3 separate regions of the Homo sapiens genome follow, and all the other regions are reported to be linked to region 1. The links are microRNA targets in miRTarBase. Many come from high-throughput screens and were not tested one by one. Region 1 holds a microRNA gene; each other region holds the end of a gene's coding sequence.

Evidence for each region. Region 1 holds the annotated microRNA hsa-miR-8065 (UGUAGGAACAGUUGAAUUUUGGCU, at 1,326-1,349, opposite strand). A microRNA usually pairs through its seed, bases 2 to 8, with sites in the 3' UTR of a target mRNA and lowers its output. Matches are read on the target gene's strand: a 7mer-m8 pairs with bases 2 to 8, a 7mer-A1 pairs with bases 2 to 7 and ends in A, and an 8mer does both.
Region 2: the mRNA of HEXIM1 is a reported target of hsa-miR-8065. Seed matches in the 3' UTR shown: 8mer at 1,170-1,177.
Region 3: the mRNA of SCML4 is a reported target of hsa-miR-8065. Seed matches in the 3' UTR shown: 7mer-m8 at 2,926-2,932.

The regions. Positions count from the first base shown.
Region 1 is chr16:5,630,297-5,633,881 of GRCh38, reverse strand. It overlaps MIR8065 (microRNA 8065), which reads right to left and starts at 1,415; the gene lies at 1,316-1,415. It also overlaps a transcript of RBFOX1 not described here.
Region 2 is chr17:45,149,916-45,152,915 of GRCh38, forward strand. HEXIM1 (HEXIM P-TEFb complex subunit 1) reads left to right here. Exons shown (of 1, transcript NM_006460.3): 1 at 1-2,184. The coding sequence ends at 355. It overlaps HEXIM2-AS1 (HEXIM2 antisense RNA 1), which reads right to left. Exons shown (of 3, transcript NR_186789.1): 3 at 1-1,004. Among named protein-coding and RNA genes, the nearest start is that of HEXIM1, 2.9 kb to the left of the region's middle. RefSeq lists an enhancer at 1-218.
Region 3 is chr6:107,702,385-107,705,384 of GRCh38, reverse strand. It overlaps SCML4 (Scm polycomb group protein like 4), which reads left to right. Exons shown (of 8, transcript NM_198081.5): 8 at 60-3,000. The coding sequence ends at 185. Among named protein-coding and RNA genes, the nearest start is that of SCML4, 120 kb to the left of the region's middle.

The DNA of each region.
Region 1 (3,585 bases):
ATTTCCTTTGTCTACTTTTTTTTTTTTTTAAGACGGAGTCTCACTCTATCGCCCAGGCTGGAGGACAGTGGCCTCCGCCTCCTGGGTTCTAGCCATTCTCCTGCCTCAGCCTCCTGAGCAGCTGCGATTACAGGCATGCACCACGACGCCCGGCTAATTTTTGTATTTTTAGAAGAGACGGAGTTTCACGATGTTGGCCAGGCTGACCTCAAACTCCCCACCTCAGGTGAGCCACCCACCTCGACCTCCCAAAGTGCTGGGATTACAGGCGTGAGCCACCACACCCAGCCCTTTACCCACTTTTTGATGGGATTATTTCTTTTATTCTTGTTGATTTGAGTTCCTTGTAGATTCTGGATGTCAGTCTTTTGTCGGATACACAGTTTGTGAATATTTTCTAAAAGACTACATATTGGGTAGAGAGTCGTTGCTCCAGTGATGAGTGCAACAAAATCTCAGAAATCACCACTAAAGAGCTCATCCATGTAATGAAAAACCACCTGTAACCCTAAAACTATTGAAAGTTTTTTTACAAAAAGAGCACCTATGCTTTGGAATGAGAAAAGAAACCAGAAGTGTGTGGTTCCAGGGAGAAGAGTGGGAGCTTCAAAATGTTCCAACTTGCACTGATGTAAAAGAGTTGTTGGCTGGGCGTGGTGGCTCAGACCTGTAATCCCAGCACTTTGGGAGGCCGAGGCAGCTGGATCACGAGGTCAGGAGTTCGAGACCAGCCTGGCCAATATGGCGAAATTCCGTCTCTATTAAAAATACAAAAATTAGCCGGGCATGGTGACTGGTGCCTACAGTCCCAGCTACTCAGGAGGCTGAGGCAGGAGAATCACTTGAACTTGGGAGGTAGAGGATGCAGTGAGCTGAGATCATAACACTGCATTCCAGCCCAGGTGACAGAGTGAGACTCCACCTCAAAAAAAAAAAAAAAAGGAGTTGTTAAGATTGCAAGCCCAGGAATCAGGTGACCTGGGTTGTGTTCCCAGCCCAGTTTTCTTAGCCACAGTGGAGAAAGTTACGGAAATTCTGTGTGCTGCAGTTCTCCCAGCTTATATGGAAGAGTACCTACCTCACAGGTTTGAAGGAAGGCTCATTCATGACCACTTTGTAAAGTGTTATCACAGCAGCATGTGCGGGACAGTAAGTGCTCACTAAATCACAGTGATGCGGCTGTATTAAACCTTCCCAATATGCCCTTATAGGCTCCAAAACAAAAGACAAATAAACATAGTTGGGCTAGGTGGCTCGTGGACAGGGCCTGGAGGTGAGTGCTATTTCCAGATAAATCACCGCTGATATTGTGTGTAATTACATGAAGCCAAAATTCAACTGTTCCTACAAGACATCAAAGCCCTTGCCTTGCTGAAAAATACAACAACAACAAAAATGATGGCTCTCATGTACTGAGCTGTCACTATGCTATGCACTTTTCATCTGCTTAATTTGATTCTCACCACAACATACAGGGTAGCTATTAGCATCTCCATCTTAAGGGGGTCAAATAACGTTGACCAGGAAACAGCTACAAGAGGTAAAAGGGCTTGCCCAAGGGACACAGAGATTGATGTGGGTTGGGAACCCAGCAGGTGTAACTCCCATATTCATCCTTACTCTCGTTCATCAGACTGTGGCTAGTTGTCTCATGACATCGTCTCTAATACAGAATAATAATTATTTTTAGTATACTGAATGCATACATGTGATAGGTACCATATGAAGTAGCTTACCTGCATCCTGTGTCCTTTGTGAAGAGGCCTCTTCTGGGCACACACAGATGCCCTTCCTCTGGTACCTCTGTGCCCTCCTTGGCTTCCTAGCTTAAGTAGGACTGGAAAAGAAAGCTCAGACATCCAATCCTCCTGTGAGATCTTTAGACGGAAGCTTATAGAGAGCAAACAGGTGGAGGCTTAACCTTTCTTTCCTACTTGGGGATGCCATTTCTACTGTCTCCACTCTATCATTCACCTGACCCTAGTGAACACCCCAGTGTCCATCCCAGAAAATGATCCTACAATGGGAGCTGCCTTTGGCCAAATTTTGACTTTGTAAGAGAAAAGCTCATCTAGACAATGCTCAACTTCCTTTCACCAGACTCTGGACACTTCATTGAATAAATACTCAGTAAGCACCTCCTAAGAGCCAAAACTCAATACTAAGTACAAAAAATGAGGGTAGGGGAAGGCAATGATCAAGTAGCTTCCGTTCTAGGAGGTGGGAAACATGAATGCAGAAGGGCAAAGGAGTCTGCAATAAATTACCTAAAACTGAAGTCAAAATGTAATGGATACATAGAAGAGACACTTTTTTTTTTTTTTTAAATATGGAGTCTCGGTCTGTCACCAGGCTGGAGTGCAGTGGTGCGATCTCGGCTCACTGCAACCTCCGCCTCCTTGGTTCAAGAGATTCTCCTGCCTCAGCCTCCCGAGTAGCTGGGACTACAAGCACCCGCCACCATACCCGGCTAATTTTTGTATTTTTAATAGAGATGGAGTTTTGCCATATTGGCCAGGCTGGTCTTGAACTCCTGACCTCGTGATCCACCTGCCTCGGCTTCCCAAAATGCTGGGATTACAGGCGTAAGCCACCACGCCTGCCCGAAGAGAGACTTTTAAATGTGCATGAGGATTGGAGAGAGCCTCTAAGACCCTGACCAGTAACATCAGCCACCAACATCATCATCATCAACCTCATCACCTTCATCAGAGCAAATTCCGACATACTCAATGACCGGTTGAGTTTTCTTTGCTTTGCTTTAGATTGTTTCAAATGTAGATGCAGCACCTCTGAGTGCCAACAGTCACGTTTTGGGGACTGGTTTGGCCATCTGTTGTGGACAACCTCTAGATACAAGTGCGACCCTTCCAAGGGGAATCACTTCACCACTCCCACTTTCCCTTTCTTAAATGTCAAATGTTGCCATTCTGCAGCTGTTTTGGAATAGATGGAGAAAATAACATCAGAAACCAACTAAAAAAAACATATTTGGTCATTAAACATCAGCAAACTAAAACATGTAAAGTTCAAGTTGCTCCCCTCTGAAATGACTTCCTCATCCACACACTCTATCTCCCTCATTGCCTTTTTTCCAACAATTGAAGTCCAAGGCGAGAGTTAGAGCCTGGCCCTCCAGATACTGCCTGGGTATGAATGACAAGCCCACGTCCATCAGGATAGAAAAAGAATAAGAAGCCGGCTTGGCTTCTCTCTGGGAAACGCTGGTTGATGAGGGCACTGCCACCAATCAATGGAAACTTCAGTCCTTTCCATCAAGAGTATCATGAAAGCCACCCGCCAGTGCTCTGAAGGTCCTGACGTGGCCTGCAGGCAGAGATTGAAGAACTTTTGTAATCAGATGGTGGGGCACATCTGATGTCTAAGGTCCCAAAGTTTTCTCCTTTTTTTCTTTCTTTTTTTTCGAGACAGAGTCTTACTCTGTCACCCAGGCTGGAGTGCAATAGCGTGGTCTTGGCTCACTGCAAACTCCACCTCCCGGGTTCAAACGATTCTCCTCCCTCAGCCTCCTGAGTAGCTGGGATTACAGACATGTGCCACAATGCCTGGCTAATTTTTGTATTT
Region 2 (3,000 bases), not on the chromosome of region 1:
GGAAGAAGGGGGTGAGGAGGATGGGGGCAGCGATGGGATGGGAGGGGACGGCAGCGAGTTTCTGCAGCGGGACTTCTCGGAGACGTACGAGCGGTACCACACGGAGAGCCTGCAGAACATGAGCAAGCAGGAGCTCATCAAGGAGTACCTGGAACTGGAGAAGTGCCTCTCGCGCATGGAGGACGAGAACAACCGGCTGCGGCTGGAGAGCAAGCGGCTGGGTGGCGACGACGCGCGTGTGCGGGAGCTGGAGCTGGAGCTGGACCGGCTGCGCGCCGAGAACCTCCAGCTGCTGACCGAGAACGAACTGCACCGGCAGCAGGAGCGAGCGCCGCTTTCCAAGTTTGGAGACTAGACTGAAACTTTTTTGGGGGAGGGGGCAAAGGGGACTTTTTACAGTGATGGAATGTAACATTATATACATGTGTATATAAGACAGTGGACCTTTTTATGACACATAATCAGAAGAGAAATCCCCCTGGCTTTGGTTTCGTAAATTTAGCTATATGTAGCTTGCGTGCTTTCTCCTGTTCTTTTAATTATGTGAAACTGAAGAGTTGCTTTTCTTGTTTTCCTTTTTAGAAGTTTTTTTCCTTAATGTGAAAGTAATTTGACCAAGTTATAATGCATTTTTGTTTTTAACAAATCCCCTCCTTAAACGGAGCTATAAGGTGGCCAAATCTGAGAACAATTAAATTCATTTTAGTTATAATAAATTTAATATTTGTAAATGTAACATAGTTTCAGTGTGATTTCTAGAGCTAATTCAAAATAGTATTGATATATTTTATGTGACTGCATTTTTGGGGAGGGGTACCGAAATCGTTAAATTTGTCAGTTTGCAAAAATATCAATCTTTAATGGGAGAATTTTCAATTTGCCAATTTTTTCCTTGAATGGGTTTAAGTATGCTACAATATACAGTTCAGGCAAAATTTAAGATGTAATTATCTTCAATACTTAAGTGTGCTTGCTTTCTAGTGCCTTGGTTTTCTTTCTTGATGCTGGAAAAATAAACAAACCGGTATTGAGTGTTTAGGCGAGTGGAAAGTGGCTACAATCCAAAATTTTAAATTTAACTCTGCCTCGGCCATTCAAAAGTCTAATAACAAAAAATGTAAACCTAATTTGGCAGTTTGTTAGGTTAGACAACTGACAGCCTCATTTCATTCCTACAAGTTGGTTTTCAGTAATCTCTTCCTTCCCCCCAGTAAGGCTGGAAGAGGCTCTTGGCAAACTTCTTAGTGCAAGCAATGGTTAGATTAATTTGTGAGGCAGCTCTTTAAGACGTTCAGAGGTAAGAAATACTGGATTTATAAAGCAAATGGCTGTTTGGGGGATTCCAAGGATTTACCTAATTGTCCAATTCTACGTGCTCTCTATACCAAAACAAAAAAAAAAAGCTATCCACCTTTCCATGTGGGTCAAACTAAAATTAGAAATGTCCCCTCACTGCAGATCAAATGTAAAGCTTCCAGTTAAGGAGCTAAATGAGGTCCTCAGCTGAATGAGGAACCCTGTACATCCCCTTGCACAGCCCTATTCTAAATCGCTTAAACTATGCTGATAGCTGCTTAGGTTCTTGAGTAGTTCTGCTCTTAAACGTAGGGAGGCCCTGAGAACTAAATTTTGCCCCAAAATAAAAACAGAAATTATGAGATTGCCTCCTGTCATTTTGGTTAACCCAGTCCTTCACCTGCCCTGTGTCAGTGTCTTCTGAGGGCAATTGCGTTGCTCAAATCACTAGCACAGAGGTTCCTTAATTTGGGGCCTTAGAAACCATTGTGGGCCTTGGGGTCCATGAACCCCATGAAATTATTTGTAGACTTGTATGTACATTTTTCTGGGGAGAAGGTTCAAGAGATTCATAAGATTGTCAAACTCCTTGAAGGTTCAGAACCTCTGCAGGGAAGGGGGAAGAAAACCCTCCCATTAGGAAGCATGCTTTTGCAGTTAAATGGCGATGGTGGAGGTGATAGGGACTTCAAGAGTAAAATGCACCTTGTATTGCATAAGAAGCATACACAAATCAATAAATCAAGGGAGATTATACCAGTAGGACTGAATCAGGGCCTTCAAAGCTGGACTGAGTTGGTCCTGTTCTGGCACATATGGTCCACTGGAGACAATGTATGATTGAGTTTTTCTTTGGTCTAAAAATTATATTAAACATTTATTTTGAAATAGTTTTCTTCGTGTTTTTTTCTTCTGCTATGACGTCATGCAGCAGCCCCAGAAAAACAGCTGCTTGGAAAGGCAGCAACAGTGCCCTCTGGCTTTACAGTGCAGAGCTGAAGCCTCATTTTGACTGAACTGTAAGATGCAGCAGTGATTATCTCTGATATTAGACCCTTTTTCTTTATTTTTTTTTTTTTTTGAGACGGAGTTTCGCTCTTGTTGCCCAGGCTGGAGTGCAATGGTGCAATCTTGGCTCACCGCAACCTCTGCCTCCCAGGTTCAAGCGATTCTCCTGCCTCAGCCTCCCTAGTAGCTGGGATTACAGGCATGTGCCACCACCCCCAGCTAATTTTGTATTTTTAGTAGAGACGTAGTTTCTCCATGTTGGTCAGGGTGCTCTCGAACTCACGACCTCAGGTGATCCGCCCGCCTCGGCCTCCCAAAGTGCTGGGATTACAGGCATGAGCCACTGCGCCCAGCCCAGACCCTCTTCTTAAAGAGGGATTCAGCTATGAAAATCTTATTTCCCCTAGTATTAGAAAAATGATATTTAGAAAATGAATCTTGGAAAGACTATAAATGCATTTATCATCAGAAAAAGTATGTTTTAGAAGACAAATTCAGCCCAGTCTTCAAATATACAGATATCTAGGCTGGGCACAGTGGCTCATGCCTGTAATCCCAGCACTTTGGGAGGCTGAGGTGGGCAGATCACCTGAGGTCAGGAGTTAAGAGACCAGCCTGACCAACATACAGAAGCCCCGTCTCTACTAAAAATACAAAAATTAGCCGGGTGTGGTGGCACATGCCTGTAATCCCAGC
Region 3 (3,000 bases), not on the chromosome of region 1:
CTGTTCGATGACTCTGACCATCTTCTGGGTTTATCTTTCTTCTGATCCTATCCCACCAGGAGATTGATGGCAACGCTCTGCTGTTGCTGAAGAGTGACATGGTCATGAAGTACCTGGGCCTGAAGCTGGGACCTGCACTGAAACTCTGCTACCACATTGACAAACTGAAGCAAGCCAAGTTCTGACTTTTTTAAAAAGACAGAAGCGAAACCCAAAACAACAGATCCCAAGATTATCTTCTGCCTTACCAATATCCCGCCAACATCACAAACTAGACTCTCCTCTTAAAATTAACAGCCACAGAGACGTGGTCTTTTTATAAAACTTGTGAATCTTTGCCTTTTGAAGAATTTAACATGGACCTTTTCGAGAGGCTCCTCTGTGTTCATAATTTGCCAAAAAATTACAAAAGCCTGTGATTTTTAACATCCCTGTTATGCTGGTTTCTCTTAAAGTGGGTCCTATTTGCATAACGAGAGAGTGGGGAACTGAATGCTTATGCCCAAGGAGAGTTCTGGAGGGTTCAAAGGATGAAAGAAGGACCTTTGTCCCTGCGGTCTCTGCAGGGACAACCCCCTCAGCACCATCTGCCTCTAACTCTGACCTGGGGACCTATCCATGTGAGCCTTGTTTGCCTCAGCTCTGGAAGCTGACTTCTGAAGATGACTGCCTCACCTTGCACTGTCTGGAAAACTTGAATTATTTTACGCCGTGAAAGAAAAAGGAAAAAAAAAAAAATCTTTTCTGTTCCTAGAAAATCTGAAGTACTGTGTTTCTCCGCTAGAGGGCAGACTGCTAATGAAATTTCAGGACCCTCACTGACTGCAGTAGCAGGATTGTTCAGTACTGAGTGGATGGGTTAGGGTGTCTGTGAACAAGATCTAGCCCACACAGAAACAGGGGATTTATTCCACAGTTAGCACCACAGATTGCGACTTGGGAAGAAACCATCAGCTAGAGGGGTCTAGTTCGTATCCAATCATTATTGACTGACTGACTGATACTCAACTAGCAAAGGCAAGAATTTGGAAGCACGCTCTACCCAGATGGGACTTTGGAGTTCCTTCCCTTCCAGAGTCCTTATTGAGGTGTTGAAGTGTTGGCATGCCGAAGAATCTTAGTGACATTTAGCCATGGGTGTTTCTTTAAAAAAGGAAAAGAAAATGTCTCAACGAAGCTTTGAAATGGGAGAGTGTTGATTTCTAGTTACATTGCTGGGTTATGTAGTTGTATCTGTGGCTAATTTTTCTAGTCCTCAACAAATACACAGACATGCTATTATGGGGTTTAATTCAATTTACAAATAGGTTTTCCTTCCTCACAGTGGAGTAATAGAAAAAATTGATTTTCTGCTCCTTTGCAGCTGTGTCCAGAGACGGACAATGAATCCACAATTTATTAGGCAGAGGCACAACTTCTCCACCATTCGTTTTATCCTTCTCTTTTCTCTGTTTCCCTCCACCTCTCTTCTTCTTCTTTCACACTGAGCAGAAAACATATCTTCAAAATGAATTCGCCTTTGCCATGTGCATATTCTCTTCCTTAAAAGGACATCAACAGTGTTGGAGATGAGGAGATGAACATTAGATTTTGGAATTTCTGGGAGGGAGAGGGTTAGGGATGACTCAGGGCCTCCCTTCGCCCAAAGGTGAATCAGAAAAGGCACCCCTTTCTCTGGGATACAACCTGAGCAGGGGTCTCAGCTGGCAAGTGGAGCAGGGTGGGGGCTCAACCTCCTCACCGCTTGATCAGCTGCCGTTGTACAGAGCATGACCTGTATAACCTTGAGGGCAGCCCTGGGTAGATCTGCAGAGTGACCCTCTATATAGTTAGAATCCAGATGAAGGCCATAAGAAATAGTCCATGCCATGCCGTTAGGCCCACTTTCATGTGCAGTACTTGAGAAAGCACATCGTAGCCTCCTTTTCAGACACACAAATGGCGGCTGGACTGAGAGCATGGCAGAGAAGGGGAGGAGGAGAATGTACTAAACTTGCTCACTGAATTGAGCTTGAGTTATTAGATTGTAGAAGAGCTTGATGTCTGGTGATTTTGTTACAGGAAGGGGGTCCCGATCCAGACCCCAAGAGAGGGCTCTTGGATCTCATGCAAGAAAGAATTCAGGGTGAGTCCATAAAGTAAAGTGAAAGCAAGTTTATTAAGAAAGTAAAGGAAGGAAAGAATGGCTACCCCATAGTCAAAGCAGCTCTGAGGGCTGCTGGTTGCCCATTTTTATGTTTATTTCTTGATATGCTAAACAAGGGGTGGATTATTCATGCCTCCCCCTTTTAGATCATATAGGGTAACTTCCTGATGTTGCCATGGCATTTGTAAACCGTCATGGCACTGGTGGTAGTATAGCAGCGAGGACAACCAGAGGTCACTCTCGTTGCCATCTTGGTTTTGGTGGGTTTTAGCCAACTTCTTTACTGCAACCTGTTTTATCAGAAGGTCTTTATGACCTATATCTTGTGCTGACCTCCTGTCTCATCCTGTGACTCAGAATGCTTTAGCCATCTGGGAATGCAGCCCAGTAGGTCTCAGCCTCATTTTACCCAGCTCCCATTCAAGATGGAGTTGCTCTGGTTCAAATGCCTCTGACAGGTTCAGCACCTGAGAAAAGTACCTTGAATCAGGCCTTGGGGCAGAGTCTTCAAGATTTTAAGGTGATAGGGCCTGTCTCTTAAGAATTTATTAATCGTAAGTGCTCACTGCTGGTTTAGAGTTAGATACATTTCCCTCAAAACAGCCATGGGCAGGTTATGTACTCAGAACTGCCAGGGTGAAAACAATGAGATCCAGAAAAATCCCACAACAATCCAGGTTTTTCACTCCTCTTTTTTTTCTCAATCTTCCGATACTTGTGGTACCTCTTCCATCAACAGATACCTCATGTAGTGACTTCCAGTATCAAGTTTTCAAAACTTCCTACCCACCCTCATCAGTGCCTCCTTCACTACAGAGTCACAAACATTGGTGCTCTCAAATAAAAATCAGCCC